Regions from separate parts of the Homo sapiens genome. Here all the other regions are linked to region 3. The links come from fine-mapping of genetic effects on gene expression. A gene starts in region 3. Each other region holds a variant in brackets. All regions are shown on one strand. Distances are from middle to middle. Region 1 overlaps BCAT1 (branched chain amino acid transaminase 1). Region 2 overlaps BCAT1 (branched chain amino acid transaminase 1). Region 3 holds the start of BCAT1 (branched chain amino acid transaminase 1).

Region 1 (10,911 bases), 40 kb after region 3:
AAGCAGATAATCATGCCAGAGACTAAACTGACTTTGCAAATAAATTAGTTTTATTATTATTATCTTTGTGGGTAAAAGTTGGGATGACTGTAGAAGAGAAAATTATATTTCAGAAGAAAATTATACCATACTTGTTATTAGATTCTAGTCTTGATAATTGTTTTTTTGAGTTTTTGTTATTTGCCTACAATTTGGGCTGAATCCTGAATTCCTTCCTGGGTACAAGTCTCCAAACTAATGTTTCCTAATTTTTCTACCATTTTTCTGTCTTGGAATCACCAAGCCCTGCAGGCTTTAGCTAGACAACTTGATATAAACTTTGGAAGAAATAATGACAGCAACTTAATATATGAGCAGTGTTCATGTCAGCTGATGTATGGATTACTCAGAAGGTTTACTTGAACACCTGATTCAAACTATAATCCAGAAATATCTGTAAGATTGCCACTGCAATCTGAAGCTACTTCAGAGACTCTAGGAAAATTAGTTTATAGACAACTCCAGATGTTAATCTTTGTTTTTCTTTTGTTTTCATGGAAATGCCTTTTATTAAACATCTGATTGCTTGATTCATAGAGGCCTGACTTTGGTGGAAGCAACACCACTGCCTGAAATGAGATATAACTGTTAACCGTTTAATTGGAGCGGCCTGTTCTCACGACTGCAAGACTAGTTCAATGGCTTATAAAATAATCCACCCGCTGGGCACAGTAGTTCACACCTGTAATCTCAGCACTTTGGGAGGCTGAGGTGGGCAAATTGCTTGAGCTCAGGAGTTCGAGACCAGCCAGAGCAACATGGTGAAACCCTGTCTCTACCAAAAATATAAAAAATTAGCCGGGCATAGTAGCATGTGCCTGTGGTCCCAGCTCCTCGGGAGGTGGATGTGGGAGGATTGCCTGAGCCTGGGAGGCAGAGCTTGCAGTGAGCTGAGATTATGACACTGCACTCTAGCCTGGGCAATACAGTGAGACCCCATCTCAAAAAAAAAAAAAAAAGATAATCTACCAACCCAATTTCTCAACTGGGGAATGTTGGGCTCCTGCTCTCCTGTCTCTGACCTTTCATTCTCCCTTGAGGCTAGCCATCAAGACTACAACCCCTCTTCCCCAAAGTGGGCCATAGAAACAAAACCCCTTTTCCCCAAAGCCAACCATAAAACCTAAAAATAGTACTCTAACTTCCACCACCCCCAGCCTGTCTGTGTAAGGCCATAAAGAAATTATCTGACTCACTTTGTTTGACTGAAGGTTATAAGACCCCCATTCCAGAGAGGGTCCAGCACCACACCCAGAAGGAAGAAATGCATGCTCAGAGAGGCAAGAAGGGTCCAGACAGACAGGCTGTGCTGGATTTCCCTGCTCAGTCTATTAGCATTAGACCATACCTTTTTTGTCCAATCATATTTCTACGTGGCTCTCCATACTTTGTTTAACCTAACCTAAGGGGGCTCAGGGTTTTGGCCTGGGCATTGTCTGTTGGGGAATAGAGTGAGTCATCCCCAGCTCATGGGTTTGCATCCAGTTCTTGTTGTAAAAGGCCCAAAGCCTGTTGGATGGCAACCCTGAGCCATCGTGGAAGGGGGGTTCCAGTTTCACAAATAGATACTCAGACAGCCAAACTACCATCTACTTGGTGCCAACGTTTGCACTGTGGTCAAAGACTTACCTAGCACAGACTGAACAAATCTTCCCATCTGTCACATAAATGTCCCCAAGCAATGTTGAAGCACATGCCAGGATCGGCCTTGCTAGGTCCTGCTTGGTAGATAAGCAAATGGCTTCCTTGTGGTGTTTTTATTCTATTTTGTCTCATTAACACTACAACTTTGTGTTATCTACTTGATAATCTGTAATTGTAAATACATACAGGATTATGTAATTTGTGTAAATACATAATGACAGACTTCTGAAAACTGGTATTTTTTACTTGGTGTCCATTTGAAGCTGTTTTAGGTTCTGTGGCACATGAACCAATGGCATTTAAAAAGCATACTCTCCTTGCTCTTAAAAAAACAAACAAAACAAAACAAAAACTGTCCATTAAAATTTTTGTATTTTTGTAAAGACAGGGTTTCACCATAAAAATGGACAGTTTCCCTTATATCTTTGGGTCTTCGTTCTGTAGGCTCTCGTGTCACATAAAATTATGATCAAATAAATTTGTATGACTTTTCTCCTATTAATCTGCCCCTTGTCAATGATTTTGAGCAACCTTCTGAAGAAAGTGATGGGGAAGTATTCCCTTTGCTGCCACAAGGTATATATCAGATAAGTCAGTCTATTTTCTTGAACATATATCACATTCATAGGAAAAACACTTTTTCCAAAAGATTACTGTCTTCCCAAATACCCACGTTCTCCATTTTTTTTTTTTTTTTTTAGAGATGGGGTCTCACTGTGTTGTCCAGGCTAGTCTCAAGCTTCTGGACTCAAGCAATCCTCTCACCTCAGCTTCCCAAAGTGCTGTGATTACAGACATAAGCCATCACGCCCGGCCCCATTTTCTCCTTTGGGTGTATGTATATTGCTCATTGTCAGGCATCAACCATTTCTCTTCTCTGAGATGGAGTCTCACTCTGTCACCCAGGCTGGAGTGCAGTGGCGCAATCTTGGCTCACTGCAAGCTCTGCCTCCCTGGTTCACGCCATTCTCCTGCCTCAGCCTCCCGAGTAGCTGGGACTACAGGTGCCCACCACTACGCCCGGCTAATTTTTTTGTATTTCTTTTTTGGTAGAGACGGGGTTTCACCGTGTTAGACAGGATGGTCTCAATCTCCTGACCTCGTGATCCGCCCGCCTCGGCCTCCCAAAGTGCTGGGATTACAGGTGTGAGCCACTGCGCCCAGCCCTCTTCTAATTTTTTATATTTATCATGTATTTACTAGAACTGGTTTATTTTCGTGAGCATATGTTGTGGATTCTACTATAAATAATGCACTTAATAATCATTAATAAAACTTAAATCCTTTCCGTCTTGATTGTGGCCTTTTCTTTTTGCTATTAATTTCCTCAGCATAGGTTAACCTGAACTCTTAAAAGCTATTTAGGTACTGGTATAAAACAAAATTTTCTCCAAAGCAATCCAGTATATAATATCTGGATTTTAAAAAAGCAGCCTCATTTAATTAGGATTAATTTCTCCTTTCAGAAGTTAAGTGATTCTGTTTCTGTAAAACGCAAAATTATAAGCTTAATTGTTTTCCACACAGGAAATGAAATTCCTAATCTTTTTATCCAGAATCTTCATGTGTTTGTCTCTCTGTCCATCTGTCACTCCTTTTTAAGGTACCTGGAGATGACCTAGAGGCTTGCCACGCTTAGGGTTTCCTCCCTGTGCAGAAGAAGATGGGAAGTGCAAATGAGGACGAGGGGTGGGGAGGGAAGAGGGAGTCAGGTGATTCAGCAAGTGCAGGAGCCCACAGACTAAGCTCAGGAATTTGCACTTTGTCTGCTCGCAGAGTGAGTTTCATCGTGGTGTGTATATATTGAGATATGCAACAGACTCCACTGGAATGTCAGAAGAACTTATGTTTATTTTTCCTCTAACATGTGGGAAAGATTAAACTGTATTTGTATTTAACTCACATAGATTGGCACGTGCTCATTCTGTGTGTCACCCTGCCACGCTGTCACAAACTTCGAGCAGGGTCCTGAGGGGAGAGGAGGGCATAGCTCCTGCTCCCAGGGGGTTGCCTGTGTAGCCCTGCGCATTCATTCTCTTCCAGAGGGTTGTGATTTGTGGCGGTCTGTGTGAGCCTGGTTAAGGAGAGTTACAGATTATGTCATCTGGTGTTAACTGATAATCTTTGCAAAAGGGACATTGGCTTTAAGAGATGTCTGCAAAAAAAACTCTAAACAAACATAAATAAAAATTTAAAAGGATAAAGCCAGAATAATAATGAAAATATTAGTAATGTAAAACAAGGAAATGTGTCATGTTTTTCATGATAACTAATATTTTTTCAATTTTTTTTTTTTTTTAAGACAGTCTCACTCTGTCACCAGGCTGGAGTCAGTAGTGCGATCTTGGCTCACTGCAACCTCCACCTCCCAGGTTCACACAATTCTCATGTCTCAGCCTCCTGAGTAGCTGGGTTTACAGGCACTCGCCACCATGCCCAGCTAATTTTTGTATTTTTAGTAAAGACAGGGTTTTACCATGTTGGCCAGGCTGGTCTCAAACTCCTGACCTCAGGTGATCGGCCGCCTTGGCCTCCCAAAGTGCTGGGATTACAGGCGTGTGCCACTGTGCCTGGCCCCAGTTCTTATTATAAGTTCTCCATTAACCATATCATGAGATTAAAAAAACAACAATGATTTCATCGGAACTGACAAATAGTGGGTGACACAATTTTGATCATCAAGAAGACTTTAAAAGAAGGATTTGTATCACTGTCATTACTGATTACTTGGCCCTTGTGTATACTGGGCCTTTAGCTAGGGCTGGTACAATAAAATAACCATAGTTAGAAAGATATTTTAAAGGATTACTTATTTCATGTTTATCTCACCCTTTTATCCCTATTTTTGGGCATGATTTATTATTATTAGGTTTTTAAATAAATAATGAAATAAGCATGTTAGGTTTGCATGCTGCTTTGGTTAACATTGCTATATAACCAACCACCCCAAACTTTGTGGCCTTAAAACAATAATTTATTTATTTATTTATTTATTTATTTATTTATTTATTTATTTATTTTTGAGACAGAGTCTCGCTATGTCACCCAGGCTGGAGTGCAGCGGCATGATCTCGGCTCACTGCAACCTCCACCTCCTGGGTTCAAGTGATCCTCCTGCCTCAGCCTCCCGTAGAGCTGGGATTACAGGCACCCGCCATCAAGCCCAGCTAATTTTTCCTTTATTTTTAGTAGAGACGGGGTTTCACCATGTTGGCCAGGTTGGTCTCGAACTCCTGATCTCAGGTGATATGCCTGCTTTGGCCTCCCAAAGTGCTGGGATTACAGGTGTGAGCCACTGTGCATGGCCAACAATAATTTATTTTTATCTCTCATGGTCTCTAGATTGCCTGGGCCCGGCTGAGCAGTCTGAGTCAGCCTTATGGTCTCTCATGTGTTTTTAATCAGTCATGAGGGGCCGGCATCATCTGAAGGCTTGACTGGGCTGGATGTTTAAGACAGCCACTCACAGGGCTGACAGTGATGCTGGATGTTGCACTGTTGACTAATGAGCCTGCACGTGGCTCCTCCATGTGATTTGGGCTATTTATAGCTGGGGTGACTGGGTTCTAGGTGGGGTAGTTCCAAGATCCTTCCAAGAGGAAGAAAGCAGAAACTGCCTGGCCAGTTAGTGTATATGCTTAGTCTTAGAACAGTGTCACTTCCATATTTCTCCATAGTCCATTAATCAAAGCAGTTACAGGAAGCAGACAGACAGGAAGGGAAAACACAATGCAACAGAAGGAGAGATTGAAGTGTTGGCAGCTGCAAGCCAAGAAACACCTGGGTTACCAGAAGCTAGAAGAAGAAAGGTAGGATTCTCCCCTACAGGTTCCAAAGGAAGCTGGGCCTGTCCACACCTCACCTCTGGAACTATGAGACAATCACTTTCTGTGGGTTTAAGCTACCCAGTTTGTGGCACTTTGTTACTACCGTCCTAGGCAAATGATACAGTAACTACATACACAGTACATAGAATTGCTCATTTTACTTCGTTGAATGGGACTTGGCATTGAATAAGCCCAAATGAGAATTCTTTTGTCAAGATTTTTTTATGGCTCACTTTTCCAGAGACGTGACATGGCAGGAGTAAGGGGAGGGTTTGGCAGGTAGGAATTATACTCATCTGTCATTGTCTTCCCAATACCAACCAGGAAGCATGTAAATAATAGCTGTGCAGTTTGTTTTCTGAACCAAACTGGGCCTTATTTTTTTTAAAGAAACTTTATTAAACAAACAAAAACCTAGAAACACTAGATGTATATTTTTAAGGTTTCTCTCACATAATATCCTAATCATCAGTATACCGTAATCCAAGGGCTACATATAACTGAAAAATAAATGGGTCTTAAAAAAATTAAAACATGGTATATAACACTAGCTAACATGTACTGAGCAGTTACTAAGTGCTAAGTACTGCTAAGTCCTTTATAGATATCTTCATGTTGAGTGTCGTCACTGCCCATTACTTACTCTGAGTTTAAATATGAGACTCAAAAGAGGTTAGTAATTTGCCAAAAGTCATAGGGCTTATAAGTGATAGAACCAGGATAACGAATCTCAACCAAGGGACTTCAATGCCCAAACCGGTGCTCAGACTGTAGCCCCATGTAGTTAGCTATTTACATTTGAAAAAATTTTTAATGTTTATTATTTTTTTTAAGACAGGGTCTTGCTCTGTCACCTAGGCTGGAGTGGAGTGGTGTGATCTTGGCTCACTGCAACCTCCACCTCCTGGGCTCAAGTGATCCTCTCATCTCAGCCTCCCAAGTAGCTGGGACCACAGGTGTATGGCACCACGCCCAACTAATTTGTTGTGTTCTTGGTAGAGGTGAGTTTCACCATGTTGCCCAGGCTGGTCTTGAACTCCTGAGCTCAAGTGACCTGCCCACTTGCCTCACCCTCCTAAAGTGGGGGGATTACAGGTGTGAGCCACCATGCCCGGCCCAGCTATTTACATTTAAATATAAATTAAAATGAAACAAGATTAAAAATTCGGTTTCTCAATCACACTAACCACACTTGAAGTGCTCAGTAGCTACATGTGGCTTAGTGGCTACCTGGCAGATATAGAACGTTTCCATCAGCACAGAAAGTTCTACTGGAAAGCATTGATCCAATCTCTTTGAACAGTCACAATGCATATAAAGTCCTTATTATGACTGTACAAGGGAAGACAACGAGTAGAGGAAGGCAGAAAATAGGAAAAAAGGAAGAAGAAAGATTTAGGGTGAGGGAGAGCAGTTCTATGAAGAAAAGAAGCTCATATCTAGGAGTGGAGTGGACCCTGAGAACATGTTAGTCTATTATATTCTAAACTTTGGCAGTTAAAATTCCAAAGTATATTAAGTACATGCTTTCTAAAATATTAGAGAGCTGCAGTTCAACAGATTTTTAACTCTCCACAGCATGTCCGGCACTGGGTGAGGTGGGATGGCTAGGTGAATAATATAGGCATTGTCATGTGTGTTCGTGTGAAGAGACCACCAAACAGGCTTTGTGTGAGCAATAAAGCTTTTTAATCACCTGGGTACAGGCGGGCCGAGTCTGAAAAGAGAGTCAGCAAAGGGTGGTGGGATTATAATTAGTTCTTAGAGGTTTGGGATAGGCGGTGGAGTAGGAACAATTTTTTGTGGGCAGGGGATGGATCTTACAAAGTACATTCTCAAGGGCGAGGAGAATATTACAAAGTACCTTAAGGGCAGGGAAGGATATTACAAAGTACCTTCTCAAGGGTGGGGAGGGTGTATCATACAAAGTGCATTCACAAGGGTGGGGAAATATCACAAAGTACATTATCGCAAGGGCAGGGAGGGTGTATTGTCACAAAGTCAATTGATCGGTTAGGGTGGGGCAGGAACAAATCACAACAGTGGAATGTCATCAGTTAAGGCAGGAACCTGCTATTTTCACTTTTGTTGATCTTCAGTTGCTTCAGGCCATCTGGATGTATACGTGCAGGTCACAGGGGATATGATGGATTAGCTTGGGCTCAGAGGCCTGACAGACATGAACTTCCCATCATAAAATTAGAAGAGCATTAATCAAATGATTAGAATAAAATATTACCATTATTTTGAAATGGCAAGCATTGTATGTAAATAAACAGCAGAGGAACCCACTGTAGCCTAGACAGGGTTCAGAGACGTTCCTGCCAAGGACATGGCACAGGGACTGAACAAGGAAGGATGACAGTGCCTGGCAAAGGCAGGGAATGTTACAGGTATTTGGGCACCTGTGAGAAGGCCTGATGTCCGAAAGGACTGAAATAAATTAAATGTGTGGGGGGAGAGAGAAAGAAAGAGCCTAGCAAAAGGTGAGCTGGAGAGTCAGAGGCAGAAGGCAGAATCTGGGATGGGCTGGGAGCTTGCCAATCATTTTGTCAAATGGGTGATGTGAAGCCTTGAAGGTTTTTTGACCAAGAGGAGATGTCTTCAGATTTGCGTTTGAGACATTTTCACTGGTTGTCATGCTAAGAATGGCTTAAAGAGAAGCAAGGCTGGGGTCAGAGGAGCTGCTTGGAAGCTGTTTGGTACTAGGATGCGGATAACATGGTTGGAGAAATGGCAACTGTCAGGGTATTTGGAGCAAGAATGGATAGACATTGGTGATCATCACTTGGATGCATTTGAGGGACAACTGCTATGTTTCTACTAGAGCAACTACATAGAGCAGGAGTAAGCAACTTACAGTCCACAGACCACATTTGCTCTGTCCCGTTTTTCAAATACAGTTTAATGGAAACAGAGCCATGCCCGTTCTTTCACCT[A/G]TTCTGCATGGCTGACATCAGGCATGGTTCTAAGTAATATACATAAGTTTCATATATTAATGCTCATCTATCCCAGTTGACAAACATGAAGTGTTGCTATTGTCTCATTTTACAGCGGAGAAAACTGACATAGAGATTCTCTTTCGCACCCATAGCTTCAGTTACCACCTCTATGCCAATGATTCAATAATACCTCTAATCCAGACCTCTTCTCTGAGCTTCAGACAGGCAGATCTCTCACAGCCAGTCTTGGAGACACTTCAGAAATCATAGGTCCCAAACCAGACTCCTCCTCATCCCCTCAAACACATTCTTTTTCAACATTCCTTTTTTCTTAGTGAACATCACCAAATAGATAAGCAAGTCAGATCCAAGGAGGCCTCCTTGGCACTTCTCTCATCCTTGTCCCACCTTATATCATCTATTTTTCTTTTTCTTTTTTTTTGAGATGGTGTCTCACTGTGTCACCCAGGCAAGTGCAGTGGTGTGATCCTGGCCCACTGCAGCCTCAACCTCACCAAGTTCAGGTAATCCTCTCACCTTAATCCCGTGAGTAGCTGGGACTACAGGCACATGCCACCGAGCCCGGCTAATTTTTGTATTTTTACCAGAGACAGGGTTTTGCCATGTTGCCCAGGCTGCCACCTTATCTCCATTCTTGCTGAAATCTGGCTGTTTCTCTCCACTTCTATTACCAACCACCAGCCAAATCTGACTTATTAAAAGGATCATCTCGTATGTGGGTTCTGTAATAGCTTCTTCAAAATCCATTCCTCTCCACCCAGACCCTCTTCCAATCTCCAAACTGCAGCCAATACCTTCAATTCTGTCACCGCTCCTGCATACTCCACCTAATCCTTAACCTTTCAATGGTTTCTCTTGCCCCTAGGTTAAGCTAAATTGAAAACTGCTAAAGCTACAGCTTCTTAGTGTAACTAGTAAGTACAGTGACTACTATGTCTGGTTTACTTCAGCTGTTGCTGACTAATAGCACTTCTTGAATGAAGAAATTATATTACCGTACTGTAGGGAAAAATTTGTACTTCAATGGAAAACTGAATTATTTAGAGCAAACCTTTAAGGTTATCTGATTCTGATTCCATGGGCCCTTTCATTGGGTCTTACATTGTTTCATTGTTTTTGAGTTATTTTACAGATGACTGATAGAAATGCAAAATAATTATTGCATGCAGTCATGCAAGTAAAATCTGAAGGTCAGGGTTCAATTAACTTCTCTCCCCTACTGTGGAAGAAGCCAATTTCATTTGCATATTCATTTCAATATTTCTGACCTATAAACATGCCTGTTCTTTGAACCAGTTTTTATATCTGCCTGGTAACTTCATTAAATGATTTAAATAAACTCTATAATTTAGTTTATTTTATACCTGTATGACAGTCAGGCTTTTACCTTATTTTTGCTTTTTAAAATTATTCTTTAGCTCTCCCTAAGGCACTACTTGGCTGGCCCTTTGGCTACTCACTAGCCCAAGCTCCATCCTCTTCTGTCTACCGCAGCCCCAGGCTCTCTTTTGGCCCTTTGTTCCAGCCCTCCTCAGAGAAGTTCTTTTGTCCTGGAACTCACTTTCATACCAGGTGCTCTTCATCCCTTCTTCCTTTAGTAAATTTCTTTAATCTTTCAGATTTCTGCTCAAGGATCACTTGCTGAAAGCCTTTCCAGGCCTTTCTGAGTCAATACAATCCATTATTAGAGGCTCTTAGAGCACAGGCAGCACTTGTTATAATTTTACATCTGTCTGTGGGATTCCTTAACACTTTCTAACACAATTAACACTTTTCTCTCTGGCTGGGGGCAATGCATGATAACAGGATGATGGTATGCTCTCAACCCTCCCCCAGCAACTAGCCCAGTGCTTCGAACATGGTGGATAGATACACCGTTTTTATTTTAGACAGATTTTTGAGTAGCAAGTACCTACTGCTCAGGAGACAGATGGACTGAAAAAATATATTTGGGAGTCATCAGCACATAGGTGCAGCCATGAAAATGCACGAGAAGCAAAACCATTGGCAGGAACAAAATGAAGGCTATTAGAGACCTTATTTAGGTGGAATAATTGGACAGAAGCCCTTAATGGGGAGGAAATAGAAGCAGTTAATACAGATGGAGGCCGGGCGCCGTGGCTCACGCCTGTAATCCTAGCACTTTGGGAGGCTGAGATAGGTGGGTGGCTTGAGTCCAGGAGTTTGAGAGCAGCCTGGGCAACATAGCAAAACCCGGTCTCTACAAAAAATACAAAAATTAGCCCGGCGTGGTGGCGCAGGCCTGTAGTCCCGGCTACTGGGGAGGCTGAGATGGGAGAATTGCTTGAACCGGGGAGGCGGATGTTGCAATTAGACGAGATCGCGCCACTGCACTCCAGCCTGGGCGACAGAGCGAGACTCCGTCTCAAAACAACAAGGACAAAACTTATCTTATAAGCGACCCTGGACTTCCAGGG
Region 2 (10,910 bases), 53 kb after region 3:
CGTCACGTAGGTTACCCCGGGTCCCGCTTACCCACCTGCATTTACTTAATGGTGGTTTAATTCTTCTTTAAGGATTGCAGTAACGGATGCTCCGCAGAGTGTACCGGAGAAGGAGGATCAAAAGAGGTGGTGGGGACTTTTAAGGTAAGTTGCTTGCCAGAGGCTTAGTGTCTAAAGCAACGTTCAACTGAATAAATCCATTTCTTGTTGAGATTCGGGGAAATTTTCACTGTGTGGGTTACCCAGTTCCTAGGTTGTGTTGCCAGACTTTTAAAATTCCACTCTTAGAGGAAAAAAAGCCATTTAGAGAGTGACAGTACATTCATCACAACAAAAATTATCTAGCAGCTAATTGCTGATTTTATTTTGAGTCATATATTTTTCTTGAAAAATAGTCAATGCGTAAATATTAAACTAGTTGTTTATCAGATTCCATAATACGTACAAACCTTCAGTCTACTTGTAGAAAAAGTTAAACTGTGATTTTTCTCTTTCAGTAGCACATAACACTCTACAGTGAAAGTGTTGCATTTTCTTCTTTTCTATCTGAATTGCGGGGTTTATATAGTAAATAGCTCATACTTCAAACAGTGAGAAACAAAGCACGTTGAAAACTGTACAAATACAAATGTAAGATGTAATATTATTTTTTCTATAAGTCTATCTCCTACCCTCCCTCCTCGTGGAGGTTTTAGCTTCTTCTTTTTATGCCTAGTGCTGCTCTTCTGCCTGTTTGAGTCACTGTCAATTGTCATCAGACAATTGACACAGAGTGTCCTAATGATCTCACATCCTGGCGGTTCAGAGAGGGAAGGAAACTTGACTCATCAGTTTCTCACACATTGAGCTCTCTCACAGTGTGCTGGAGACTGTGCCATGCATTGGACATCCAAAGGTGAATTCAAGATTAGGTCTCTACTTGCAAGGAATTTTTATTTTATTTTTCTTTTTCCTTCTCTTGCTGTCATCTTAGCAAGGATTTTTTAAAAAGCAAAATTAGAATATTGCAATTTCTTTTCTGTTTTTTGAGACAGGGTCTCGCTCTGTCACCCAGGCTGGAGTGCAGTGGCACGATCTCAGCTCACTGCAATCTCTGCCTCCCAGGTTCAAGTGATTCTCCTGCCTCAGCCTCCTGAGTAGCTGAGATTACAGGCATGTGCCATCACGCCCAGCTAATTTTGTATTTTTAGTAGAGATGGGGTTATCACCATGTTAGCCAGGCTGGTCTCGAACTCCTGGCCTCATGCAATCCACCTCCCAAAGTGCTGGGATTGCAGGCGTGAGCCACCAAGCCTAGCCTGAAGAATTCTTTGCAAAGAAAAATATCAACTCAAATTTAAATAATCTTTTCCTTTCTTTTTCTTTTTTTTGAGACAGAGTCTTGTTCTGTTGCCCAGACTGAAGTGCAGTGGCACCATCAATTAGGTATCACTTTCAGCCTTGATCTCTCAGACTCAAGTGATCCTCTTAGCCTCTCAAGTACCTGAGACTATCGGCTTGCATGCCATCAGGCCCAACTAATTTCGTCATTTTTTGTAGAGATGGGATCTCCCTGTGTTGCCCAGACTGATCTCCAACTCCTGGGCTTGTGCAACCCTCCCACCTCGGCCTCCCAAAATGCTGGGTCACAGGCATAAGCCACAATGCCTGGCCATAAATAATCTTTTTTATTTGTTAATTTAGATTTCTGTATATTAGGTTTTATTTAGGGGAATTGCCTGTTTACACTCATGTATTTACACATCAAAACATGAGTTATGGTGGATGTATTCACAGCACATATGTAATAAGGCATGTGTAAAAATGATATTGATAATTTAGGGAATAAAAATGGTAGATTTTATAGACCATCTTTGTTTTTGATATACTTTTCTCTGTCTCAAAAAACAAAAACAAAAACAAACAAACAAACAAAATATATATATATAGCCTACATTGTTGTTAACTATAATCACCCTACTCTGCTATGAACAGTAGACTTTATCGCTTCTATCTAACTGTATGTTTGTACTCATTAACCAACCTCTCTTCCTCCACCTACACCCTTCCCACCCCCTGCCATCTTCTGATATCTATCATTCTATGAGTACTCTCTTCCTCCATGAGATCAACTTTTTTTTTTAGCTCTCACGTATGAGTGAGAACATGCAATATTTGTTTTTCTGGGTTTTTTTTTTTTTCTGTGTTTGGCTTATTTCGCTTACCATAATGACTTCCAGTTCCATCCATGTTGCTACAAATGACACGATTTTACTCTTTTTTAATGGCTGAGTAGTATTCCATTGTGTATATGCACCACATTTTATTTGTTCATTGATGGACACTTAGGTGATTCCATGTCTTGACTATTGTGAATAGTGCTGTAATAAACATGGGACTGCAGATATCCCTTTGATATACTGATTTCCTTTCCTTTGGAAAATACCCAGTAGTAGGATTGTTGGTTTATATGGTCATTCTACTTTTAGTTTTTTTTTTGGAAAGCTTCATACCATTTTCCACAGTAGATAAACTAATTTACATTCTTACCAACAGTGTATAAGCGTTCTCTTTTCTCTGTATCCTCATCAGCATCTGTTATTTTTTGTCTTTCTAATAATAACCATTCTAACTGTGGTTGCTTTTGACATATTTCTCTACCTTTTTGTTAATCTACATCATTTATAACATTTCATATGGCCTTTTGGGTCTCTCTTGGGTAGTTTTCGTATTTCTTCTCCCCTCCCCATTTATGATGCAGTCATATTACATGAGGATGCAGTTTTGCAGCAGGGCCTAGCAATGAGATACGTTGTTACACATCCTGGCGAATCTTTCTGTGGACTCTAGGATCCTCTTCATTTGCAAGAGGTCAGCCATCTATTTCTTCCAATTCCTCCAGCTTCACATATCTCCACAGAATGCAACACTGCAAATCTGCAGTTCTCTTCATGATCCTCTTTATTAGATTTTAAAAGAGTATCTCCAAAAGATGAACATAGTGCCTAAGGCTTTCCAAATGGAGTAAG[A/G]ATAATGCACAAGAACCTAGAATAAAGTTATTAAATGTCTGATACAGTTGTAATACAGACTTGATTTTTGAAAAATGTGGCCAATGAAGAGAAGAGCAAATGTGCTATACGATGGTGAGCAAAAGGTGTTGACAGGCCTGGCATGGTGACTCACCCCTGTAATCCCAGCACTTTGGGAGGCTGAGGTGGGTGGATCATTTGAGGTCAGGAGTTTGAGACTAGCCTGGCCAACATGGTGAAACCCTGTTTGTATTAAAAATACAAAAATTAGCCAGGTGCGATGACACATGCCTGTAATCCCAGCTACCTGGGAGGCTGAGGCTTGAGACTTGCTTGAACCGGGGAGGCGGAGGTTGCAGCGAGCCGAGATTGTGCCACTGCACTCCAGCCTGGGCAACAGAGCAAAAAAAAAAAAAAAAAAAAAAAAAAGTGTTGACTGAACCCTGGCTGAAACAGTTTTCAGGTGCTTTCAACAAATTTACACTTCCCTGCCCTGAGCCTCCCTATTTCAGAACAAATGATTACCCAACTGCAAACTTTGAATTAGGAAGTTGTTTTTAATATGCCCTGTTTTTCTCAATATTTCTTGCCATTTCACAATCAGTTATTGTGGCATTCCAATTCTTCCACAAACATATGATGTGAAACATCCTGACTTCGATGTCATCAGGGAATGTGGAGCATTGGAAAGAGACAGATTAATTATGCAGAAGAAAGTATCATTTGACAAAATATTATTTTTATTTATCTTTGGAAAGGAAATCTAGAAAAAGAAAATACTTTTTAAAGAACACTGATAAAAATTGTTTATAAAATTTGTTTCCTTTAGGAAACAAATCGTTCCCTTAAAACTACATTTCATATCTGCCCCAAACGAGTCACATGTCTTCAGCTAATATTGCTTGTTTACGTTTGAACTTTATTCAATTCTATCACCTAGTAATTTAGTATTCTTAGGTAATTTCTCTTTGAGCTCAGGTTAAAAGTTGTTATTTTTAGTTTTCAGAGTTGCAGAATTTTTTTTTCAAGTAGAGAAAAGTTCATGATGAGATTCTGAAGCCACCTAATCGTATATTACTTTGAAAAACTGGATATATGCCGGGCGCGGTAGCTCACACCTGTAATCCCAGCACTTTCAGAGGCCGAGGTGGGTGGGTCACCTGAGGTCAGGAGTTCGAGACCAGCCTGGTCAACATGGTGAAACCCCATCTCTACCAAAAATACAAAACTTAGCCGGGTGTTGTGGCACATGCCTGTAGTCCCAGCTACTCAGGAGGCTGAAGCAGGAGAATCACTTGAACCTGGGAGGCGGAGGTTGCAGTGAGCCCAGATCACATCACTGCTCTTCCGCCTGGGTGACAGAGTGAGACTCCATCTAAAAGAAAAAGCAAAACAAAACAAAACTGGATACAGGGCAGTGCTTAGGTACAAATCAGAAAGTTAGAGGTTGCTATTCATATCATTAAGAAATAATGTGTCTTACGAAAGAATGTAGCAGTTTACTGAAATAGAAGTCATACCTAGAAATGTAATAATTTATCTTTAATTGTCAGAAATTTAACTGATATTATGAAGTTCTAATTATAAGAACACTTATTTGAGGTTAAAAATTACCTTATTCTATCCCTGCTTTGCCGCTAATTTGATCTCTCTGGATTAGTGGGTTATTGTGGGTCCTATGGGTATTTTAAGGAGAGGTCTCAGAAAACTAAAAATTATATATACTGGATCATAATCATTCTTGTCACCCACTCTCATCTTTCTGTTTTTGTTTTGTGTTTTACTACCCTTCCCCTTTTACTAAGTAGTCTTAGTAGAAGAAAATTTGCATTAAGTTTGTCGTACTGTATTGATATGGCTCCAAATGTTTCTTAGCCCAGGGTCCTCCCCATTCACTGATAAAAGCTAACTAAGGTAAATCACAGGTGTTTATTGTGCAAGAATACTGTGAAACTATTCATGTAATAAAAAGTTTGTGTTAGAATTTCACTCTCTTTAAATCCTGGACATCTTCTGTGAGTGTATCTGAAAGCAGCCAGACATCTTCAGTATTTAAGAAACCCTTTACTATTCTGTGTGCTAGGCACTGTGTTAGCTTTGGAATTCAACTGTGAATACTCTAGCCAGACTTCTTGTCTAAATAGTCCAGAATAGGGGTTGCTAAACTTTCTTTCTTTTTTTTTGAGATGGAGTTCCACTCTTATTGCCCAGGCTGGAGTGCACTGGTGTGTCTCTGCTGACTGCAACCTCTGCCTCCCAGGTTCAAGCAGTTCTCCTGCCTCAGCCTCCCAAGTAGCTGGGATTACAGGCGCCCACCACTACACTCAGTTAATTTTTGTATTTTTAGTAGAGACAGGGTTGTGCTGTTTGCCAGGTTGATCTCAAACTCCTGACCTTTGGTGATCCACCCGCCTCGGCCTCCCAAAGTGTTGGGATTCAGGGTGTGCCACTGTGCCCGGCCTGCTAAACTTTCTTAAATGGCTAGATGATAAATATTTTAGGCTTGAGGGCCATCAGGTTTCTGTTACAACTAGTTGGCTGTGCTGCCACTGAAGATACAAGAATGGCGTGACTATGTTCCAATAACATTTTAATTTCAAAACAGGCCAGCTGGCTGCATTTGGTCTGCAAGTAAAGTCTGCCTGACCCCCTACCTAGTCCAGAGGACAACGGGAGAGAAAAGGGATTCAAAGATAAAAATAATTTAGCTGGAATATATTTCTTTAAATAAACTTATTATACTTAGTAAAAAGTCTTAAATTAACGTTTTTACTTGAATTAAATAGTGGTAAAACAGGCTGGGCACAGTGGCTCATGCCTGTAATCTTAGAACTTTGGGAGGTCGAGGCAGGCAGATTGCTTAAGCCCAGGAGTTCGAGACCAGCCTGGGCAACATAGTGAGTCCCTATCTCTAAAAAAAATACAAAATAATAATAATAATGGTAGAACAAAGTCAATTTTTTATTGAAACTTGGCATTTTATTGGCATATTACAAAGTAGCATTACTAGACTAGCCTGAACATTACAGTAATATTCTGTCCTTAATGCCTTTTGTGTCACTGTAATATGAGCTTTCTGTTTGTTTTGGAATATGTTTTCAGCCTGAATATTATTCTAAAAATACAATTTACTATCATTCATAATATATCAAATGACTCACGTAGCTGCAAGGCAGTGAATTAAACAGAATTAGATCATTTTAAAAATAATGATAAGAGCTGATGATGTAAAGTGAAGGTCTGTATTTAATTTGGGAGGGAAAAGACTTTTTTTGTATATTCAAAGAGATGGAGTTTGACATCCCTTCACAACCTGTTACAGGTTGAACTTGCCCCTGTTTTTTTAACTGATCAAAAAGTTCCTTCTCTTGTGTTTCTTTTTTTCTTCTCTTTTCTCTTCTTTTCTTTTCTTTTTTTTTTTTCTGAGACAGAGTCTTGCTCTGTCTCCCAGGCTGGAGTGCAGTGGTGCGATCTTGACTCTCTGCAACCTCCGCCTCCCGGGTTCAAGTGATTTTCCTGCCTCAGCCTCCTGAGTAGCTGCGACTACAGGTGCATGCCACCACGCCTGGCTAATTTTTAGTATTTTTAGTAGAGACGGGGTTTCACCATGTTAGCTAGGATGGTCTCAATCTCCAAACCTTGTGATCTGCATGCCTCGGCTTCCCAAAGTGCTGGTCTCCTGTGTTTTTGTCAGCATTCCACAGATGCTATAAAGTTAGTGGTGGTATCGCATGCAATTTGTACGCTTAATGTTTGGCCATTTGCAGTGGGCAAACTGGCTATGTCGGGAGCTGGTGAGATGCTGCTTGTGGGGAGTTGTTTCCTATTACTCTGATTTATCTTTGTTTAAATAAGAGTTCCTTTGTTCACTGTTTCCTCCACACAGAACAGAGGATTTATATCTTAGTGTTCATTCTCAACTTTCCTGTTTTCAAAGAGGAAAACATTTGCTTCACTTTGCTCATTTCTTCTCCAGTGCACCCAGAGGATTTTGAAGGCTTATGCCAACAATTCTTTGGGGCAGTTGGAGTGTAACCATTGCTAAATAGCAGTTCAGTACTTAATGACATTCATTTTAGTTTAACAAATCATTGTGAGTGTTGCCATTTTTTATTAGGGAAAACATCTCTTTCATCTTTCCCAAATACTCAACATGAGTCCTATGGTGAGAGTGAAAAAGGGTTGTATTCTTTTTTTGCATCATCTTACCCCATCTGCTATTTTGTCCCTCTTCTATATATCACTGAAATTTGGTTCTGATATTCTATTAGGCAGTGTACATTGCAGAGATTATGAATAACTGGCCGAATTCTGAATGCAGGCATGATTTGTTCAGCTCAGAGTGTTAAATTTCTGTGTTAGCTGCTAACCTTTAAAAGTCAATTGATTTCCTTTTTTTTTTTCCCCTCTGTATAATCTAGCCAGCGAATGCTCAGTAGCTTTTCTGTAAATAGTGATGATTTTTCTTCCCCAGGCTAAAGACCTAATAGTCACACCAGCTACCATTTTAAAGGAAAAACCAGACCCCAATAATCTGGTTTTTGGAACTGTGTTCACGGATCATATGCTGACGGTGGAGTGGTCCTCAGAGTTTGGATGGGAGAAACCTCATATCAAGCCTCTTCAGAACCTGTCATTGCACCCTGGCTCATCAGCTTTGCACTATGCAGTGGAAGTAAGTACATGGGAATTAAAGAGAGTGACATGCTTGCACTTCACTGTGGGTACTAAGTAGCTTCTCCTGCTAAAATAGCTCTTGGGCAGTATGGGCTTTATCATATTTACCAGAGGAAGCCGAAAATGTCTTTAAAAGTTTTCCTATAGACAGTTGGATTGAAGATAAATCTTAGCAGCTAATTTTTCAGATAATCTTGCATTTTCTGTGACGTCAATAAAAAAATTATTTAAAGCAAATAGAAAGGACAGCTGGTGGGAAAATTGGCAATTAAAAAGCCAGCACTGTTGATAATTTAATAAGTCACCTTTCTTCTTAGATCTTCTAATAATTGAGAAAGGGTCATTGAGAACAATATTATGATTTGATTTTAATGCTAACTCCACATTTTTATGACCAGTAATAATGTCTAGTTATGCATGTTAAGGGACATGTAATTAAATGTCCTCCTTCAGCCATGAGTTGAAATAATTTTAAGCATAAAATGTTTAAAGAATTCTTTCTCTGGTCCTTTTCAGGGTGCACAATTAACCAGATGCACAGTATACTTCCCATTGTCTTGATTCTCATTGTATTTTACTTTTGAATGATTTGGACATCTTTCCCAGAATAATAGGGGTGCTGGAAATAATAATAGTCTTCCTATTAAGTGCTAAAATATGGTAATAGTAAAATATTAATAGATTAATGATAAAATAACAACTTTTGTTTACTGAATTCCTGCAATACGTTCTGTATTATGTTCCATATATGAATCATCTCATTTAATTACCTTAAGTGAGAAGGCATGTGATTAAGCATTCAGGCTTTGAAGTCAGACATCCTGGGCTCAAATTCGGTCTCATTTGCTCCATAGGAACCTTTATGACTTGAGGAATTTAATCATTTGTGCTTTAATTTCTTTATCTATAAAATTGGGGTAGTTATAATATCTATCTTACAGTGATCTCATAAGTATAAAATAAAGTAATTTATCTAAGCATATAGAGTCATATCTGGTGCATAGCGAGAGCCCAGTTGTTAGCAATAATAATTAACTCTTGAAGCAGTGGTCTCATCCATTATAAAAGGAGGCTCAGAAGAGTTGTTTCTTGACTAATATTACACAGCAGTAAGGGTGGAGCTAAGGTTCCAATGAGAAGCTTCTTTCTGTTATATAGCCCCTACATGTATACACCAAAATTACTAGGATGCTTTTGCAATTAACTCCTTCAAAATTATAAATTCATATAATTTTGGAAAGATATTCACTGTCCATATGTATCCACAAAATGTTGAATTTAGGAATCTAAGTTTCTGTTCCCAGCTCTTCCTGTTATGTCAATTTGAATGAGTTCTTTCATTATTTGCCACAAGCCCTCACCATGTCATAAGGTATAATAAAGAACAGGTGAAATGAAGTGCTTTTATTTATTTATTTTTCAGACAGATTCTTGCTCTGTCACCCAGGCTGGAGTGCAGTGGCACGATCGTGGCTCACTGCAGCCTCAAACTCCTGGGCTCAAGCAAACCTCGTACCTCAGCCTCCTGAGTAGCTGGGACCACAGACACATGTCACCATGTCTGGCTAATTTTTACATATTTTGTTGAGACTGGGTTTTGCCATGTTGCCCAGGCTGGTCTCAAACTCCTGGGCTCAAGCAATCCTCTTGCCTTGGCTTCTTCAAGTGCTGGGATGACAGCCATGAGCCACTGCTCCTGGCTATGTGCTTTTAAATTTGAAAGGAATAATATGCCCAAGCCCAGGTCACTGGTTCTCAAACTTAATGTGCATCAGAATCAGCTGGCTACATCTCCAGAGTTTCTCATTTCTAACAAGTGTCCAGATCATGTTAATTTTGTCGCTCCAGGGACCACATTTTGGGAATTGCTGGCCTATGGGAAGTAAATGAGAAATGATTTAATGTCATTTTTGGAAGTTAAAAAAGATTTTGGTGGTCACTGGTTTTTGAAAACTCTTTGAAGGCTGGGTGGGGTGGTTCACATCTGTAATTTCAGCAGTTTCGGGGAGATGGGGTTCTTGGGAAATGAGCCCTCCACCCATGGGATCTGATGCTATTTCCACGTAGATAATGTCAGAGTCGTTCAAACCAGAGTGACTCCATCCTGAATAGGGGCTGGGTAAAATAAGGCTGAGACCTACTGGGCTGCAACATGATGAGACCCTGACTCTATTGAAACAAAACAAAACAAAACAAAACAAAACAAAACAAAAAACGGCCAGGCGAGGTGGCTCACGCCTGTAATACCAGCACTTTGGGAGGCCAAGGCGGGCGGATCACGAGGTCAGGAGATCGAGACCATCCTGGCTAACATGGTGAAACCCCATCTCTACTAAAAATAGAAAAAAAAAAAAAAATTAGCCGGGCGTGGTGGCAGGCGCCTGTAGTCCAAGCTACTTAGGAGGCTGAGGCAGGAAAATGACGTGAACCCAGGAGGCGGAGTTTGCAGTGAGCCGAGATCACGCCGCTGCACTCCACACTGGGTGACAGAGCAAGACTCCATCTCAAAAAAAAAAAACAAAAACCTCTTTGGCCATCTATTTAGATGAGTTGGAATGCTACTTTGATTGGTTTTGCCAATTTAGATTTTTGTAATTAGGGTAGTTTAAAAAAACTCTCAAATTACTGTTATCCTTTGTTAAAAACCAAAATCTTTTATTATTAGTCTTCTGCTTACAATATAAGTAAAATAAATGTTTTGTATTAATAACTGGATTGTATATTGCATGGTTACCACTATGTAACAAAATTAATAGCTTAAAATTACAAGCGTCATTTTAAAATTATTTTTCATGTTTCTGGGGTTGACTAGGATGGCTAAGTGGTTTTTGCTTGGGGTCCGTCACACGGTTGCTGTCAGTGGCTGGGGTTAGAGTCAGCTCACAGGCTTCCTAACTCATATGGTGCTGGAGGGAGTGTCTCTTAGCATGCTAATGCTTCATAATTTGTGTATAATGAACAGTGAGGATGACCAGAGGTCACTTTCATTGCCATCTGGGCTGCAAAACTCAAGGAGTTGAAGGCTCTTCCGGCATTACTTGTTCTCCATGTGGTCTCCTCAGGATGGCAGTCACAGAGTAGGCAGCCTTCTTATGTGCTGACCTAGGGCCCAAAATCTGTATGTGTCAGTTGACTGAGCCCAGATGGAAGCTCTATTGCTGTTTACGCCCTAGCCTCAAAACTACTCTTTCAAGAAAAATTCTCCAACCGAGTTTTTCCTCTACT
Region 3 (10,911 bases):
ATGATTTTGAACAGGAGAAAAAAATCTAATCAGAACGGAGGACTAGGGAGATTACTAGCCATCTGTGTGTTGGGTGGATTGGGGCAGGGAGAGATTAAAGGCAGGGATAACAGTAATCCAGAGGGAAAGTACAATGAATGACCAAACTAGGGCAGTGAGAGTGGGAACTGAGGGGGATGACTAAGAGATTTTGTGGAGATACAATTGGGACGGCTTAGTGATTACGGGATGGGGGAGGCTCATATCTTTCTCTCTTGCTTTAAGTACTATCTATAAAGATAGGAGCTATATGAAAGTTTGGAGGCTGGATAATTGGAAGCACATTAATGACATCAGCAGAGAGAGGGAAGCAGGTTAAAAAGGGAAGATTATGTGCTTGGATTTGGATTAATTGGGCTTGTTAGAATAGAGATGAACCAGAGATCTAGTATAGTTTTAAAAGTTATCAGACTACAGGTCATAGTAGAGACACTAGAGGACAGAGTATAAAGAGGAGATTCAAGATCAGATACAGGTGGGATGAACACCTTGCCTATATTTAGAGGGCATGAGGTGATCATAAATAAGGTGTAAGGACCTGCCAGAGAGGCTGGAGGAGATTCAGAATCCTATCGTGGAAGGGAGGAGTTTCAAGGAGAAGGAGGATAGCTTTGTGCGTCAGGGTGGAAAGTACCCTGAGAGGTTCTAGAGAACTAGCAGAAAGAAGACTTTACAATATCCTTTCAAAATAGATAGGAATTAATTTATTTTTATTTTTATTTTTTTGAGATGGAGTCTTGCTCTGTCGCCCAGGCTGGAGTGCAGTGGTGCGATCTCGGCTCACTGCAAGCTCCACCTCCCGGGTTCAAGCCATTCTCCTGCCTCAGCCTCCCGGTAGCTGGGACTACAGGTGCCTGCCACCAAGCCTGGCTAATTTTTTGTATTTTTAGTACAGACTGGGTTTCACCGTGTTAGCCAGGATGGTCTCGATCTCCTGACCTCGTGATCCGCCCACCTCGGCCTCCCAAAGTGCTGGGATTACAGGCATAAGCCACCGCGCCCAACCCAGTAAATCTAATTTTACATGGGGATTAGGTACTAGAGTGTGTACAACAAGGATAAAAATAAATCCAGTGAGTCAAAATTGTCATGGGAAATTTCCCAAAAAGTACAGTATAAATGATTTTCGAGTATTGAACTTGGTGTGTGTCTGTGTGTGTATGCATGTGTGTGTGCACATGTATGTAATGGGCAATGAATGCAAGTATTATAGGAAATATAAAAACAGTACAATTTTGAAGTATTTTTTACTATGAGAAATAGAGAAAGAGAATGACATTGTTTTCTGAGTGTGTAGAGTAGAATTTTAGAGTAGATTTTCCTCTTTTAAGACAGAGTATCATTGCCTTATGTAAACTCTCCTATTCAAATTCCAGGAACTGTTAATAACTCAAGGCAGAGAATATTTGTGAGTTTCTGCTTTCCTAGAGAAAATTTAGTAAGATACAGGGAAGACATTCTGCAGGTAGTTGGCACATATTTTTCATAATGATGGCAATAAAAGCCTTTGTTAATAACAGTGAGGACAAAATGAAGCTGGACTGTCTGGCGCTCTGGAGTCAACCTCAAAATTAGTGTCTATTAGAAATCTTAGAAATGCTGTCTCTTCTTCAGTAAAAGACACTGCCCATAGATGGGTATATGGTATATATCCAGTTTGGATCCAGTTTTCCTTAAATATCTTTTACTGTGACTTGTTTGAAGTACAGTGCCACTGTCAGAGTAACAACCTTCGTTGATCATGAGCCTCATCATTTGGGAAAAGCATGTGTGTTGTCTGGGAGAGAAGCTTTGGGAGTTTACAGTTGACAATGAGGGAGAACTGTGGGGCCCTTCTATCAACACTAAAGGGAAATGGGAGGAGAGACATAGCTAGATTGTTCTTATATTCTTTTTTTTTCTTTTTTTTTTTTTTTTTTTGGAGATGATGTCTCACTCTGTCACCCAGGCTGGAGTGCAGTGAAGTATGAAGTGATCACAGCTCACTGCAGCCTGGATCTCCTGGGCTCCAGTGATCCTTCCACCTCAGCCTTGGGAGTAGCTTAGACTGCAGGCACATACCACCACAAACAGCTAATTTTTGCATTTTTTGTAAAGACTGGCTTTTGCTATGTTGCCCAGGCTGGTCTTGAACTCCTGCTTTGACGTCCCAAAGTGCTGGGATTATAGGCGTGAACGCCCGGCCCTCATATTCTTCTGTGGATGTTAATTCCCTAACTTTCTCACTTCCCTTCAAGCTCTTTTTTTTTTTTTTTTTTTAAATATATACTACCTTCTCTCTTCCTTTGTTGCTAACATCAAAAGAATCCTTAAGTAGGGGTAACAGCAACAGGGTTGGAGGTGAAACTGTACCTTCAAGCCAAAAACAGCCTGAAGGCTGAAAGACCAGACTGCTGGTCCTGGATGAAATCCATGACGCAGAGTGAGAATTTCTGTTCCTGTTTGCCTGCCCCTCCCCTATTCTGAGCCGATAAAAAGCCCCAGGACTCAGCCTCATGGAGGAGACTTTCCTGCCTTCGGGTAGGGGGACCACCCCCGCTTCCCTCTCTGCTGAAAGCTGTTTCATCCCTCAGTAAAACTCCCCGCCTTGCTCACTCTTCAATTGTCAGCACATCTTCATTTTTCTTGGGCATGGGGCAAGAACTCAGGAACCAATGTGCAAGGCAAACTTGTCTCAGGCGGGCAAATTGCGTGGGGTGCCTCCTGCAGCAGGTAGTATGCCCCGAGCTAGGCCTCCGGCATTGCCGGCTAGAGGTCCTTGACTGGCAAAGGGACTGAGAAAAATCCTGCATTGAGGGAGAGGGGGGCGAGGGGCGGTCGTTGGATCTAGGAGTAATTGCCAGGCTTGCTCTAGAACTTATTAATGCATTTATATCTATGACCCCATCACTCTCTATCCCCTTATTACTCTTTCTCATAAAATTTACCACATGGTACCTGTTTTTTTTTTTTTTTTTTTTTTTTTGAGACTGAGTCTTGCTCTATTGCCCAGGCTGGAATGCAGTGGCATGATCTTGGCTCACAGCAACCTCTCTGCCTCCCAGGTTCAAGCGATTCTTGTGACTCAGCCTTGTGAGTAGCTGGGATTACAGGCACCCCGCAACCACGCCCGGCTAATTTTTAGTAGAGACGGGGTTTCACCATGTTGGCCAGGCTGGTCTCGAACTCCCGACCTCAAGTGATCTGTCTGCCTCAGCCTCCCAAAGTGCTGAGATTACAGGTGTGAGCCACCATGCCGGGCCATAGAGTAACATCTTTATTGAGATATAATTCACATAACATACAATTCACCTATTTAAAGGGTATAATTCAGTGGTTTTTAGTGTGTTCACAGGGTTGTGTAACCATTACCACAATCTAATTTGAGAACATTTTAATCAATTCAAAAAGAAATCCAACGCCCATGAACATTCACTCTGCATTCCACCCTGTCCCCAGATTGAAAACAACTATGTGTTTTCTGTCTCTATGGATTTTCCTGTTCTGCACATTTCAGATAAGTGGAATCATATAATATGTAGTCATTTGTGAGACGCTTCTTTCACTTTGCATAGTTTTCAAGGTTCATCCATGTGACTGCATGTAATCAGTACTTCATTTCTTTTTATTGCAGAATATAATAATATTCCATTGTATGGATGATACCATGTTTTATTTAGCCATTCCTCAGTTGATAAACATTTTGCTACCTGATTTAAAGCTTACTTTCTGTTTCTCACACTAGTATATGAGCTTAATGAGGGTAAGAACATTTTTGTTGTTTCCCACTCAGTCCCTAGCATTTTGCACATTGCCTGTCTCATGTCAGTGTCAGGTTCAAATCTATCTAGCTGTGCTTTCACTGACGGGGGCCAGGAGGTTTCACAAGGACTCAATGGCTGATTAAATGCTTACAGATACAGATTTCTCAGGGCAGAACTTCTGCAAGCATTTTGGCTGTGGTCAGTTACTTTCAGGTTTTCATTACTTTTTGGTTTTCACAGCATCCGCAAGTGCCCATAGCCATTATCTCAGCTGCCTCTCTCTTTACTCTCTTGCCAATGGTGCCAGGCCACAGCAGGTGTTATCTTATCACCTCAGTCCACCATACATATGCTTATCAATTTGAGGGGTCAGCAATTTCACTGGAGGCTGAAACCCTTGTCATAAATGGCTCCATTTTGAGACATTTCAGATTACAAACCACTGTTATATACCAGCCTAGCATGTAGAAATCACTCAGTACATTTATTGAACACATAATTTAACCATTCATTCACCTGACCAACAGTCATTAAGCACTGACACATTTGTTTTCAACACTCCCTCTCTTCCACGGCAGGCCACTTGGTATGGGAGATAAATATGACAAAGGATCTGCCCTTACGAATCTCATAATCCACTGAAGTGACAACTGTGCAAACAAATAATTAAAGTAAAATTAAGAAGCTGGGCACAGTCTCACATCTGTAATCCCAGCAATTTGGGAGGCGGAGGCGAGGGGATTGCTGAGGCCAGGAGTTCAAGACCAGCTTGGCCAATTTAGTGAGACCCCATCTCCATTAAAAAATGATAAAATAAAATAATTGATTTTGAGAAAGGATGTGGACAAAGTGCAGCACATAGACCAAGGGCCCAGTTCTGTTTGAGGGCATTGGAAGCAACTTCCACAGCAAAGACTTGGGTTGAAATTTACAAAAATAGGAGTTTGCCAGCTTGACAGAGAGGCAGCGGAGGTCAACCAGCAGCACACTTAAGCAGTCATGGAGGCTGACCTAGGCGCTGGACATGGAAAAGTAGCAATCCTGGAGCTTTGTATAGATGTGGGGAGGGAACTTACAGGGGACCAACTAGGCTACTGGGCAATTTCACATTATAAAGAATTTTATATGCTCAAATTAAAGGATTAAAAATTTTCCCCCATGTACATAATAAATTGGCAAAAATGGTTATATTTGAGGGTGACTAAGGAACTCTGGGAAAGAGATCGGCAAACCAGGCACATGTTCTTGACTACTGCAAAAGTACATTTAAAGTAGCCGCGGGGGATACATGTATACTTTTGGGCAGGATTGTGCCGTGGTCCTCTCAGCATGCAGCAAAGTTACTTTGGGGACAGTAGGGAGGTGGGCAGGAGCCAGTGATGACGGAATGGCAATCACATTTGACCTCTGATCTGTTTATTTCCTCCTCCTTGACGTCTCCATATAAATGTTACACGGGCATCCCCACACTCGGATACGCACCCACAGTGGCTGATTCGGGGGTAACCGTGTCATTTGCTTGCAACACTGGCACCTCTGCCCTGCACCCCGGGAGTGAGCAGTGAGTGAGGCTCGGGTCTGGGCGCTGGCTCCGAATCTTCGGGCTGGGAGAGACTCCACCATCTGGGGGCGGCCTGGGGGAGCAGCCTTAGTGTCTTCCTGCTGATGCAATCCGCTAGGTCGCGAGTCTCCGCCGCGAGAGGGCCGGTCTGCAATCCAGCCCGCCACGTGTACTCGCCGCCGCCTCGGGCACTGCCCCAGGTCTTGCTGCAGCCGGGACCGCGCTCTGCAGCCGCAGACCCGGTCCACACGGCCAGGGGCTACGACCCTTGGGATCTGCCCTCCGCTCAGCTCGAGCTTCCCTCGTGGCCGACGGAACAATGAAGGTAACTACTTATGGTTTTGTCCGTGTTTTACAAAAATGTGTGCGTGAATCGAACCGGCGATTTCTCCAAGAAACATAGTTGGCAGGGAGGGGAGGAAGGCGAGACAACCATGGCTTATATCCCCCGCAAACGTCTCAGTATCTTCTTTATCAATCGTAGTTTGCGGGGACCGTGCATTCTGTTCAGATTTCGGTTTAACCTCCACTCGCAGGACGTGCCTTCTCGGACTTTTTCACATTCGCTTTTGGGAACGGAGGTGAAAGTCTGCTACAGCTCCCTCCCCTGCTTGTGAAGTTTGGAAAGGAAGTGAGGGCTTCTCTCAGTTTCTCCTATGCACAGGAGGTGGGGAATTTTGGAGAGGAGGTCTGGGGATGTCCCGGGCTGTAAATGCGCTTTCCTGCAGCGTGTGTTCGTGATGCAGGAGGGAGCGGCTGGAAGAGTTGACCCGGGTGGAGAGGGGAGGGAGAACGATCTTTTCACTGTTAAAAGCAGAAGGCCCCTCTTATTTTGTTTCTTGTGGAAATTAAAGCTTCTAGGAGTTACAAATGATAGACGCCTAAGGGCATTCATTTGTTAAACCAGTGAGCACCCTAATGGCTCTGATCTTGCTAATCAAGGATAATTAGCCTAGCTGCCTATTATTTCTGACTATTTAGGTGTAGGGATGTACACCGTTGAGTGTTTTGTTTTCCTAGTTTCACACACTGGAAAACTGCAATCGCATATAAAACCCGAAGAGCAACTTTTTCCAAGGAAAGTGAAGGATGGGCAGATATTCTTGCCATCTAACATTTTGGAATTGAGATGACCATAATGCAATCTGAACTTCTGGTAGGAATAAAGCCTCGTTTCAGAGTTTCTAAGGAGGGAGATGAAGCGTGGTTCTCAACTGCTCTTATCTACAACCCATCCCAGACCATAGTTTCACTTAGAAGAAATAATATGTAAATAGCGCCTTTGTTGCCAAACAAAAACTTTCACTACAATTAAACAGTAACCGAGTGGAAACTATGCGTTTTTGTATTCAACAGAGATCACACAACTTTTCTTCTATAGTTAGAGGTTCTATTTCTGGCTTCCTCATGCTTGTTTCATTTCAGATGAAAAACACACTTTAGTTGATTATAGCTTTAGTAAGTAAAAGGAGAAAACTAAGAATGAACAGTCTTGCTTTTCCAGCTTTTTCCTGTCCATGTGCAGTTGTGGTTAATTACGCGTTTTTGTAGGTCCAAAAACCCCTGTCCCTTCCACAAGATACTTTTATAACATGGGGAACTAGGTAAGATATCTACAAGTAGTCTCTTTTCTGTTTCCTGATATTTCCTAAGATTAAGAAAGAAATGATTGTATTCTAGGTATGATCGAAGAAGTATGGAAGGTTCCATTAAGTTAGTTTTATCACAATATTTCAAACATCTTTCCACTTATCTCTTAAATATGTATTGCTATCACAAGCTTGATTTTTTAAAAAAATGTTATTTGCACATGGCATCTTGATTGCCTTTGTCCTCAGCAAATTCTCCGGGCTTAAGTCATGCATGAGCTTGTATTTTAAGACAGACACATGCAGAATGGGCAACTTGGATAAGAAACATAGGATATACACTGAGTAGCATGTGTACAAAAATGGTAAGTGAGTATTATGACTTAATAAATTTAGATGGGGATTTAAAAATGATACACATGTAAATGGGATTGGAGGCAAGGGAAGTCCGTGTGTGTGTGTGTGTGTGTGTGTGTGTGTGTGTGTGTGTGTGTGGAGGGAAGACGGGAGGCCTAGTGGGGAGAGAGGTTTTACATTCCAGACACAGGATGTGGCCCCTCAGGCTAGGCTCAGAGATGTAAAGCTAGTTAAGCTGGCCTAACAAAAGGGTGGTGGTTAGAAAAAGGAAAAAAAGAGGTGGGGGTTGGGGAGGAAAAGAATTTAATGCTGGCCAATATTTTCATCTGATAAGTTTCAGTAATGAGTAATTTCACTGGATTTCAGAACTACAGAGAGAAAAGGGGAAAAATATTTTTCCTTTTTTACGCAAGAATTTCTCTTGCTTTTCAGCTCATTAGAACCAGATCTAATTATTTGAAATGAGTTTAAAACCTTATTATGAAAGGAAGTTGAAAACATTCGATCACAATTGAGTTTTGTACTATGGACTAAAACCAAGATGTGCTTTCTGTCAGTAGCTGTGCAACTCCCTGAAAAAAGAAAAATAGCGCAGAGCGATCTGAGCTTTGTGAAGGCTACACAATTTATCAGGCCCAGAGAGATAGGAGTGTGAGACTTCAGTCACGTCCCCCCGTACGCATGCGCAGGAGTAATTATTTAAAGACATTTTGTTCCTGACTAACTGCCTCACTCATTATGTTCCTGGAATTTGTGATACAAAAAAACAATGTTTAGCCTATCAATAGTTTATATAGTTTATGTTATTTTAATATAAATTCTTCTCAACTTAGAAACTGCCTCTTTTTTCTTTTAAAAACCCACTTGTAACTGCTGTATATATTCAGGGCAACTTGATTTGGTGTTTCGTTGGTTGCAGTCCTCAAATTTGACCTCAATATACTCTCTACTTATATAAATTTTGTCTCAGTTTTGTCCGTAGGCTGACATTCCAATTGTTTTCCTAATTATATATTTTGTTCCTTATTTCTCATGTCTAGAAATAAAGCTAGGGAAGTAAACAGCTGGAAAACTGATAGTGGTGTTATTAACCTAACTGAGAGGGCTGGGCTTATGAGTAAATTATTCCTGTGCATAAATGAAAGATTGTTTCTAAATGGCAGCTATGTTGAGCCTTTGTATTAGTTACATCTTTTGGGGTTTCAGGTTGCCAGCTTCTTTAAATGGCCTCTTCTCAACTGGTATAGGAAGTTGGAAAATAAAGAACTTTCTTTATTTCCCTTTAGTGTTGGTAACCACAGTTTCTTTAAATAACAGATGCCCACCCCAGGGAAACCCAGTGGCATGATCAGCCTTATGCTCAGGAAGGTTTGGTTGCTATACTGGAGAGTGAGAATCTGGGACCTTCCATGATAGACATAATTGTGCCAGCTATCCTCTACTTTCTATATGATGCTATCATTCTTTTTTCTTTTCTTTTTTTTGACAGAATCTCACTGTGTTGTTCAGGCTGGAGTGCCGCAGAGTGATCTCTACTCACTGCAACCTCTGCCTCCTAGGTTCAAGCAATTCTTGTGCCTCAGCCTCCTGAGAAGCTGGGATTACCACCATGCCCAGCTAATTTTCGTATTTTTTTGTAAAGACGGAGTTTTGCCATGTTGGCCAGGCTGGTCTGGAACTCCTGGCCTCAAGCGATCTGCCCATCTCGGCCTCCCAAAGTGCTGGGATTACAGGCATGTGCTATCATTCTTTTTGAGCACAGGAGGAAACTATGGCTGATCTGCTCATTTTACTGTCAAAAATATAGGCAGCTTTTGTATTGTAACATTATCCCCTTAACAGCTGTCCAACTGGTCTATACATTTCACCTAACATATGGTAAATGTTCCTACTGTTGGCCTTTCCTGAGCCTCTGTCCATTCAACTAAGGCCACTGCAATGGGATTGTATGCAGTTCAGCCAAGAAATAAATGTGAGGTGCAACTCACATTTTTTAAATGTTTCAAAATTAAGCATTTAGGTGCTTTTATTCATAAACATGACTTTGCAAATATTGGTAAACAGTTTCATCATAAGACCTTGTCAGTGACTCACAATGTCAATGGTGAACGCAAAGGAGAATCTGTCTTTTCTGGAACACCAGGTTCAGGTATCAGTTTCAACTATGCTTATAATTTGTGCTCTAAAGTCCACAAAGCTAAATTATCTTTCCCCTAAAAATTGAGTACTCATATCCTTAAAATAGCTTGGAAATTAGATTACCTTATGAATACAGCATAGCATGTCACATAAACGTTTTTCTACTGTTATACCTTTTTGGTGGGAAAGACTATTTTGCAAAACATTTTTCTTGTGTTCAGTAATTAATGGGAAAAACAAACTCTAAAAGAAAGAGACAGTTATGTCCCAAAAATACAGGAAAATGGAAGAATGGAAACAGGGAAGACCAATAAAGAAAAAAATAGAGGAAATTACAAGTAATAAACTGAAGTCATACTGAAAAACATATGGCTCTTTCTTATTGAAAGTTGTGAAATACTTGCAAAACTCAGCTAGTTCCATTAAGAATAGTCTTTAATCTAAAAAGAACAAATTCATTTGTCAGTTCTTTATTTCGGTGTGTAGATTTGAATGTTTCATCAATTGCATTTACGGTTTATCCCTCAGTGTGAGAACTGTTTTTGCTGTTTTGACTATAAATGGATATCTGCTTTAGGAAGACTTAGGAAGCCTGGGACATAGGATTACAGATCAAATTCTATTTGACTCCATAGAAGTTGAGACGGAAGGAGCACCTGTTGGGATATTCTAGACCAAACATTCCACAGCTGTCTCTTAACGTGACTGACAAAGAGACACAGTTGAGACGAAGTTTGGGTATATCCTGGGATGAGGCCAAGGGTGGATTTGCACAGGATGGTCACAGGGCAGTTGTTAGCATTCCACCACTACATAAAAGGGTGATTTTGCCAAGTGCATTTCATTTCATTTCAGTTGATTTAGATACCAAGTTATATTGTTTTGACTTTAGGACTAGATGTGAGTTCAGGAATTTGAAATCATAATAAATGTTTCCTTGAACTTTGAAGATAAAAGGTAGAGTTAAAAGACAGCTGCGAAGTCTACATGGGGAAGCATAATACATGACTCAGGGTTCCATGGTTTTCAGTGTCGGTGAGTGCTCTGTACACTTATAAGAATAGTGCTGGTGTTTATAGAAGAAACACATGCAGGTTTGAGGCAAGACTTCCTTGCTTAATTGGTGCTTTTGCTTTCCATTTTCTAAATGCCATGCAAACTACTTTTTTTTTTTTCTTTTGTTGAGACGGAGTCTTGCTCTGTCACCCAGGCTGGAGTACAGTGGTGCGATCTCGGCTCACTGCAAGCTCCGCCTCCTGGGTTCACGCCATTCTCCTGCCTCAGCTTCCTGAGTAGCTGGGACTACAGGCGCCCGCCACCACGCCCGGCTAATTTTTTGTATTTTTTGTAGAGACGGGGTTTCACCATGTTAGCCAGGAAGGTCTTGATCTCCTGACCTCGTGATCTGCCCGCCTCGGCCACCCAAGGTGCTGGGATTACAGGCGTGAGCCACCGCTCCCGGCCTCAAACTACTTTAACTGAA

What was found.
Region 1: its variant is fine-mapped to the expression of BCAT1 in whole blood (INTERVAL, PIP above 0.99).
Region 2: its variant is fine-mapped to the expression of BCAT1 in whole blood (INTERVAL, PIP above 0.99).

The regions. Positions count from the first base shown.
Region 1 is chr12:24,904,171-24,915,081 of GRCh38, reverse strand. All of the region lies in intron 1 of BCAT1 (branched chain amino acid transaminase 1), which reads left to right. It overlaps LOC124902898, which reads right to left. Exons shown (of 1, transcript XM_047429951.1): 1 at 7,177-10,911. Among named protein-coding and RNA genes, the nearest start is that of BCAT1, 39 kb to the left of the region's middle. RefSeq lists a silencer at 3,333-3,627 and an enhancer at 9,835-10,557. The variant A/G (reference allele first, on the strand shown) is at 8,450.
Region 2 is chr12:24,891,048-24,901,957 of GRCh38, reverse strand. It overlaps BCAT1 (branched chain amino acid transaminase 1), which reads left to right. Exons shown (of 11, transcript NM_005504.7): 2 at 73-144; 3 at 7,483-7,683. Among named protein-coding and RNA genes, the nearest start is that of BCAT1, 53 kb to the left of the region's middle. The variant A/G (reference allele first, on the strand shown) is at 3,009.
Region 3 is chr12:24,943,684-24,954,594 of GRCh38, reverse strand. BCAT1 (branched chain amino acid transaminase 1) reads left to right here and starts at 5,494. Exons shown (of 11, transcript NM_005504.7): 1 at 5,494-5,668. The coding sequence starts at 5,663. BCAT1-DT (BCAT1 divergent transcript) reads right to left here and starts at 5,432. Exons shown (of 3, transcript NR_199054.1): 1 at 5,265-5,432. RefSeq lists enhancers at 2,241-2,310, 2,691-2,760, 5,041-5,130, 5,251-5,600.